2 linked regions of the Homo sapiens genome follow. The protein of the gene in region 2 purifies or fractionates together with the protein of the main gene of each other region. This does not show direct contact. Each region holds a gene or a part of one and is shown on either strand. Other genes may lie near its edges. The genes, in order: WWC1 and SSX7.

Region 1 (3,811 bases), on a different chromosome or scaffold from region 2:
AGAGTTTGTAGAAGTGAGGAATCTGGGGAATCAGGCCCCTATACACTGGAAGGAACTTTGACAAATCGAACAAAATTCCAGATGCATTTGTCCTTTGGTCCAGACCCTTCACTTCTAGGCATTATCCCACAGATGCCCCTGCATGAGTACCAGTGAGCTATGGAGGAGGCTATTCAGCCTGGCACTGTCTGTGTGGGCAGAAGACTGAAATTGACCCAAGCATCCCATCTTGTCTTCCTTCCGTTTTGTCCGCCTTCCTGCCCTTTCTTCTTCCCACATGTGCCACCCTCACAGGCTGGCTGAGTGTAGACCACAGACACATAAGCTTCTGTTGCCACCCTCCAGGCCTTACGATCAGAGAAAACTTGGAGGCAGATGAGTGCAATAAAGGATAAACCCATCTACCATGGGAGGAGCCCACAGGCAGACAGAGCAGGTGTTTGCATCCTACCAGCATCAAGGTAACACGCAGTCACACCCCTCCAAGAGAAGCAGTGACTGGTGTTGACTCTTGGAAACAGAAGACCTATCTCTCTCTGCAAGAAACACTTGAGCTTAGGAGAAGATAAAACAGACTGTGACCATTCTTCTCCATGAGGCTCAAAGTCCAGGAGGGTAGGGCCCAGGAAGGATCTGCTCACCACCCCATTCCTAGAGCTGGCATGCAGCAGGTGCTCAGCACGTAATGGGGCAGGAATTCACACAGTCATCTAGAGAGTGCTTGTCTTTACAGTTGGTGTGCTTGCCGTTGTGCCTGTATTCACATGCACAGCACCGACATTCAGCATCACAGTCATATGCAGTACAAACCCACAGTGCCTTGACAAGGCCCATAACTGGATCAGGACAGGGCAGAAAAGTGACCCCCAGGGGTAACTCCAGAGGGTTAGGGTATGAAATACACCTGTCCAGCTACATACTCACACTTTCTGGTCTTGTTGCTGCAACAGAGCAGAAAGGTTACTCAGCTGGATGATTAATATTGCAAATTGCTTATTCTTCTCATCATACCTGAAATGAAAAGGGGCATATGAAGTACCTATTAGTAACACACTCATCTCTCTCATTCCTTCTCTCCATTAAAAGTCACAGGACGTGGCTGTTGGCTGCCCTGGGGCCTATGGTGAGCTCTAGAGCACAGGCCCAGTGCTTTGCTGCCATGCAGGGATGTAGAGCTAGAGCTGCCAATTGTTTGAAAATTTTTTTTTTGTTTTGAAACAGGGTCTCACTCTGTCATCCAGGTTGAGTGCAGTGGCATGATCGGGGCTCATGGTAGCCTCGACCTCCCAGGCTCAGGTGATCCTCCCACCTCAGCCTCTCAAGTAGCTAGGACTACAGGTGTTCACCACCACACCCAGCTAATTTTGTGTATTTTTAGTAGAGATGGGGTTTCATCATGTTGCCTGGGCTGGTCCTGAACTCCTGGAATCAAGTGATTCCTCTGCCTCAGCCTCCCAAAGTGTCAGGATTAAAGGTGTGAGCCACCACACCCAGCCAGTTGTCTGAATTTTTAAAAAGAACCCATAAATGCGGGTGAAATTTCATGATATGGAAATGTTGTCAACTAATTCCTATTAAAAAATATTGAAGGCCAGGTGTGGTGGCTCATGCCTGTAATCTCAGCACTTTGGGAGGCCAAGGCGGGCAGATCATTTGAGGTCAGGAGTTTGAGACTAGCCTGGCCAACATGGTGAAACTCCATCTCTATTAAAAATACAAAAGTTAGCCGGGCGTGGTGGCACACACCTGTAATCCCAGCTACTTGGGAGGCTGAGGCAGGAGAATCGCTTGAACCCAGGAGGCAGAGGTTGCAGCGAGCTGAGATCACACCACTGCACTCCAGCCTGGGTGACAGGTGAGACCCTGTCTCAAAAAAAAAAAAAAAAAAAAATTGAGATCATATCATCCCCCAACAAAAGAAAACAAAAAGAACAACCATGTGTGTATTGACCCAATCTGGGCTGCAGCCCCCAGTGATCAACTTCCATCCAGATCAATGAAACCTAGATGGGATGGAAAGACAAAAGCCACAGCAACAATGAACAAACACACTGAGAGGCAGGAGGTCTCAGTCCCAGTCCTGGCTCTGCTACCAGCCAGCTCAGTGAGTTGGGCCAAGTCATAAGGTCTTTTAAAACCCCATTTCTCCAACCTCATTTCTCCTATCTGTAAAGCGGATGGCTGGGAGGTGAGGAACGAATCAGCATCCCTTCAGTTAAGAAGCTGCAATGGCCAGCAGGTCCTGCTGGTGCTGCCTTCCACCCTGGGCGGCTGTGAAGGTAAATGCTGGGGAACGCTGTGGATGAAGAAGGGACCCCACACAGACCGTTCCTTCTGTCCTCCTCGTCCTCGTCACTTACTTCAGGGCAATCTGAATTCGGGTCGCACCCACTGCTTCCGATTCGTCACTGTCAAATGCAGCAGCTTCTGAAGCACCCAGTCTGAAAGGCAACAGGGGAGGAGGAGTTAGGCTTCCCTACAGTGAACAAACTATTCTGGGAGGCTGAGGTTACATCCCCAGGAAGGAAAGTTGGGGTTTGCTCAGCTTCCCTTCAGGTCCTTTTTTAAATTTTAATTAAAAAAAATTTTTTTTAGAGATGGGGGCTCACTATGTTGCCCAGGCTGGTCTCGAACTCCTTGTATCAAGTGATCCTCCCACTGAAGCCTCCCAAGTAGCTGGGATTACAGACTCACACCACTATGCCCAGCTTGGACTCCTCTCTTAAGGGGCCTTCCCTTTCTCTAGTGCTTGCTCCTTAGCCATATACCTTTTTCGTAGCTACCACAGAACTAGCACTCCCCCAAACCTGAAGCATCTCTAACCCCAGGAAAAGTTATGCTGTCTGTGCCTTGGGCAGCCAAGAGGAAGGTGGGGTCATGCCCTCTTGGGGCTCCTCCCACACACTGTGGGGGCCAAAACCTAAGCCTCTCCACAGGCCTAGGCTCTGGATATTCAGAGTTCATGGCTTACAGGGCCACAGAGAGAGCCAGCACCCAGACACCTACCTCTGCACGGAAGCCTCGTACACACCACTGTCTCCAGCCACTGACTCGTCCGATACGGCGGCTGAGACACAGGCCACTTTCAGGCCACACCCCTGGGCCGTATTCACAGCTAGGGAAGGAAAATGGAAAGGCAGGTTCAGGAACCAGGAAACTGCCTTTGCGACTCCCAATTTTGTTTTGTTTTTGAGGCAGGGTCTCACTCATCCAGGCTGGAGTGCAGTGGCACAATCATGGCTCACTGCAGCCTCGACCACTTCGGGTTCTGGTGATCCTCCCACCTCCGCCTCCCAAATACTGGAACTACAGGCATGTGCCACCATACCCAGCTAATTTTTGAATTATTATTTTGTTGTAGAGATGGGGTTTTGCCATATTGCCCAGGCTGGTCTTGAACTCCTGGTCTTAGGCGATCTGCCTGCTTTGGCCTTCCAAAGTGTTGGGATTACAGGCGTCAGCGACTGTAATCCCAACACTTTGGGATTCGGGGAGCCTGAACTCCCAATTTTGATACACTCTCTATGGAAGACAGACGGTTCCACCAAATTCCAACCACCTCTAAATGCTAAAGCAAAAAAAAAAAAAAAAAAAAAAAATTAAAAAAAAGTTTGCTTTAGGGTGATGGAAGGAGTCACATGTGATTTTGTGTTTTACCATCCCAGGCTCTTGAGTCGAACTGCCTGGATTCAAATCCGGCTCCACCACTCACTGCTTCATGACCTTGAGATACTGACTTAATCCTGTTAAGCCTCAGATGCCTCATTTGTAAAACTTGGATAATAATACCTACTTATAGGGCTGTTGACAG
Region 2 (4,339 bases):
TCTGTATTTCAGCAGCAATGAACAGAACCAAGCTGGGAGCACGAGATGGGATGAGGGTAAGTTAATATACCACAAAGCTTACTGTTTTTACAGAGTTTCAGCTGGTTCGTTCGTTCCTTCCTTCCTTCCTTCCTTCCTTCCTTCCTTCCTTCCTTCCTTCCTTCCTTTCTTTTCTTTCTTCTTTCTTTCAAGTATGGATGTATTTATTTATTTGACAGTCTTGCTCTGTCGCCCAAGCTGGAGTGCAGTGGTGTGATCTCAGCTCAATGCAACGTCCGCTTCCCAGGTTCAAATCATTGAGCGAGCCCAGAAAGTCAAAAGCAGCCGGGGAAAAATAGCAAAAGGCAGGGCGGTGCATGCCTGTAGTCCCAAGGCTGAAGCAGGAGGATCGCTTGAGCCCAGGAGGTAGGGACCAGCCAGGACAACATAGCAAAACTGTCTCTGCTAGAAAAATTAAAAATATTAGTGGTGGTGGGGTGGTGTGAGCCTGTAGTCACCAGGCTGAGGCGGGAGGATTGTTTGAGCCCGGGAGGTAGAGGCCAGCCTGGCCAACATAGCGAAACCCCATTTCTACTAACAACAAGAACAACAAAAAAATTGCGTGGGTGGGATGGCTCACTCCTGTAGTTCCGAGGCCAAGGTGGGAGGACTGCTTGAGCCCAGGAGGTCAATACCAGCCTGGCCAACGTAGCGAAAGCCTGTCTTTCCTATAAGTAAATAAATAAATAAATAAATAAATAAATAAATAAATAAATAAAATAAAATAAAATAAAATAAAATAAAAATGAGCAGGGCAGAATGGCAGTAGTCCTGAGGCCGTGGTGGAAGGATCCCTTGAGCCCAGGAGGTTGAGGCCAGCCTGGCCAACATAGCGAAACCGTCTCTTTTAAAAAATCCAAAAACAAAAAATATTAGTGGGGGTGGGGTGGTTCCCACCTGTAGTCGCGAGACCGAGGCGGGAAGATTGGCCAAGGCGGATGTAACCAATACCACAATCACATCCCATAAGTAAATACATTTTCCTCTCTCCAGGGCTACAGGTAAAGGATGGTAATTGTGCACACCACACTTAGATTCCCTTTCAAAAATGTAATCAGAGGTTGGAGGGCCTTGGACTGTTTTTTCAGTAGCAACAGATATAGAAGCCACTGAAGAATGAAAGCCACTACTAAGTACAGCAAAGCTCTGCAAATGTGCTAGTCTGGAAAACATTGTGTCTTTCAAGTAGAAAAATCACAGATCCGACTATTTTTTTCTTCTCGCTGTTCAGACTAGAAAACAGATTTTTAACCCAAGATCCAGGGACGGTCTTCAGAGAGTTCAAAATCTCCTGACGGCGCCTGAGGACCACCCACTTTGTCGCAGTGGCAACAAAGTGTTGCTGGAGGAGGAGACAATATTGTGCAATGTCACTATGCAGGGATGATGGACCAATCAGGGCAGTTAGTGAACTCCATCTGGCCAATCAGAAGTCAGAACAGTAGCGTGATAAGCGAAGCTGATGTGGCTTCTATCAGTCCAGGCTCCAGGGACAGAACCTTCTCAAAGTGGGGGTGGAGACTCTGATTTTCCCGCCTAAAGCATCCCCTGGGATTGGCTACTTTAAGTTCAGAGTATGCATGCTCTGACTTTCTCTCTCGATTCTTCCATACTCAGAGTACGCACGGTCTGATTTTCTCTTTTGATTCTTCCAAAATCAGAGTAAGCATGCGCTGATTTTCTTTTTCCATTCTTACTACCCCTCCCCTCCTCTGTGGTGCATTTGTTATCTAGTTTTAATAAGGAGTGTATGTGAGGCAGGTCGCCATCTCAAATCCTTCCTGTCAGTTTCTAACTTTTTCAGGTATGGGATTTTTCCTGGGAACTCTAGTAACTTAACAAATTTGGGCCGGGTACGGTGGCTCACGCTTGTAATTCCAGCAGTTTTGGAGGCCACAGCTGGTGGATCACTTGAACCCAGGAGGCGGAGGTTGCAGTGAGCCATGATCACACCACTGCATCCCAGCCTGGGCAGCAGAGAGAGACCATGACTCAAAAAAAAAAAAAAAAAAAAACTCACTCAAATCTTTCCTCCTGGGATCAAGTGATCCTCTCGCGTAGGCCTTGGGACTAGAGGTGCACACCACTCCGCTTCTGTTAATGTGTGTGTGTGTGTGTGTGTTTTGTTGTTGTTGTTGTTTTAGTAGAGATGGTTTCGGTATGTTGGCCAGGCTGGTCTCAAGCTCATGGGCTCAAGCGATCCGCCCTCCTTGGCCTCCCAAAGTGCTGGGATTACAGGCGTGAGCCACTGCGCCTGGCTGATTGCTGCACCTTGAAACTCCCTACATTCTCTCTAAGTGATGGCGGGCTCTTGTAGTCTCAGAAATTCTAGCTCTCTTCTTCTAATAATTTACAAATCACCCAGTAATAGCCTCTAAATCCGTTCATATTAGCCATGCTCATTTCTCTTCAACAGAACAGAACCCCCTATCCCTCTGCCTGATCAGATCCATCACCAGAGAGACGATGTTATCTCTGGGACTCATTTCCCTTCCATTATTTATTGAGTCGGGGTGTCAGCATGCCCCCACTGAATAAAATTACACAGTCACATCTCTGCCTTCCCAACAAGGGTCTGTACATCTTTCAGAGTAAGGCTAGCCCCAGGGAAACTACTAACAACATTAGCCAACCCCCTCCCAAAGACTCAAGGCTGCTTTGCCCACAGGAAGCCTGTCATCCCAAATCAATACTTCTCCCAGAGACCCCTGGTTCCCTATTTTCATCTGACTTCGCCCCATGTCATTACTCAGGGACAGATAAGCCCCAGATGGAGAAATGAAGCACCTGATTCCAGGTGACTGAGGGTGGCCGGCCTTCACTGATTTCTCCCTCCACAAGACCAAAGCTGCTGTGGCTGGAAAGACTCAGGCTATTTCTCTTGCAGGTCAGACTGCTCCTGGTGCCATGAACGGAGACGACGCCTTTGCAAGGAGACCTAGGGCTGGTGCTCAAATACCAGAGAAGATCCAAAAGGTGAGGTGACCTGGAGGGAGCAGAGTAGTGGCCCAGGGGACAGTGTGGGGTGGCCAAGTTTCTGAGGAGGGGAGGACAGAGATACTGGAGACAAGGACCAGGGTCTTGGGGGAGATCTGGATCCTTGAGAGCCTCCCATCCTCGCTCTGTCATCAACTAGCATCCTTGGAGACAAGTCTGTGACCGTGCACTACATTTGGTGAATCTCAGTCCATTCTGGAAAGTGGGAAGAGAGTCAGTCAGCAGCATTAAAGCCCTACTGTGTGGCAGGGGTGAAGCTAGGAAAGGTCGCTCATGTTGTCGGTTAGCCATGGCATCATCCCCACTTCCCAGATCCAGCACACAGGAAGGGGCTCCAGCTGAATGGCAGACATGTCTAGCTGAGTCACTGACAAAATTCCTTTTTTATCTTTTCCTAGTCCTTCGATGATATTGCCAAATACTTCTCTAAGAAAGAGTGGGAAAAGATGAAATCCTTGGAGAAAATCAGCTATGTGTATATGAAGAGAAAGTATGAGGCCATGACTAAACTAGGTAACAGAAAGTTCTAGGTACAGACAAGTCTGGGGACACATGAGCATCCCTATTCCTGCTTTGGCTACTTCTTAGGCTGCAGAAAGTACCCCACATTTTCCTTTTGTGCAGGGAAAAATCGCAAGGCAGCTTCTGGGTGTTCTCCTCTTCTGTATCCTGTCAGGGCTGAGGGCAGGGACTGGCCACAGTGGAGCTCATACCTGGATCCTGCACGTTTCTCTCCCTTAGGCTTCTGTTCTGATGAGTCCAAGTGTCTCTGTGGCATCCCGGCACCCCCACACCGTCCCTACCTTCCTTCTCTCGGCTTGTATCTTTCTTTCTTTCTTTTTTTTTGAGTCTGAGTCTCAGTCTGTCACCTAGGCTAGTTTGCAGTAGTGCAGTCATAGCTCACTGCAGCCTTGAACTCCTGGCCTCAAGCAATACTCCAGCCTCAGCCTCCCAAAGCACTGGTACTACAGATATGAGCCACCGTGACAGGTCAAAGCTTGTCTCTTAAGGAATAAACATTTTGCTTCTTTCTAGGCTTCAAGGCCACCCTCCCACCTTTCATGCATAATACAGGGGCCACAGACCTCCAGGGGAATGATTTTGATAATGACCGTAACCAAGGGAATCAGGGTGAGTAGACGGGAAGGGGCTGGAAAGGGTCTCCTCAAGCCCAGCTGCTTTTCAGCTCAGCTACTTGGGAAAGATCCTCAGGCATTTGTTCCCTCATACACATCAGGGCTGAGTGAAAAAAAAAAAAATTGCATGCAGAAAGTTAACTACAGAGGCCATTCATATAAAATTT

Evidence for each region.
Region 1: the proteins of SSX7 (region 2) and WWC1 purify together in Homo sapiens (affinity purification with mass spectrometry; one large-scale study listed by BioGRID and IntAct). This does not show direct contact.

What each region holds. Positions count from the first base shown.
Region 1 is NC_000005.10:168,427,337-168,431,147, reverse strand, and holds part of WWC1 (protein KIBRA), read right to left. Parts: intron 3,116-3,811; coding exon 3,007-3,115; intron 2,442-3,006; coding exon 2,361-2,441; intron 1,012-2,360; coding exon 925-1,011; intron 1-924. UniProt on the Homo sapiens protein: Regulator of the Hippo signaling pathway, also known as the Salvador-Warts-Hippo (SWH) pathway.
Region 2 is NC_000023.11:52,652,080-52,656,418, reverse strand, and holds the start of SSX7 (protein SSX7), read left to right. Parts: upstream 1-1,518; 5' UTR 1,519-1,657; intron 1,658-2,926; 5' UTR 2,927-2,946; coding exon 2,947-3,015; intron 3,016-3,434; coding exon 3,435-3,549; intron 3,550-4,071; coding exon 4,072-4,167; intron 4,168-4,339.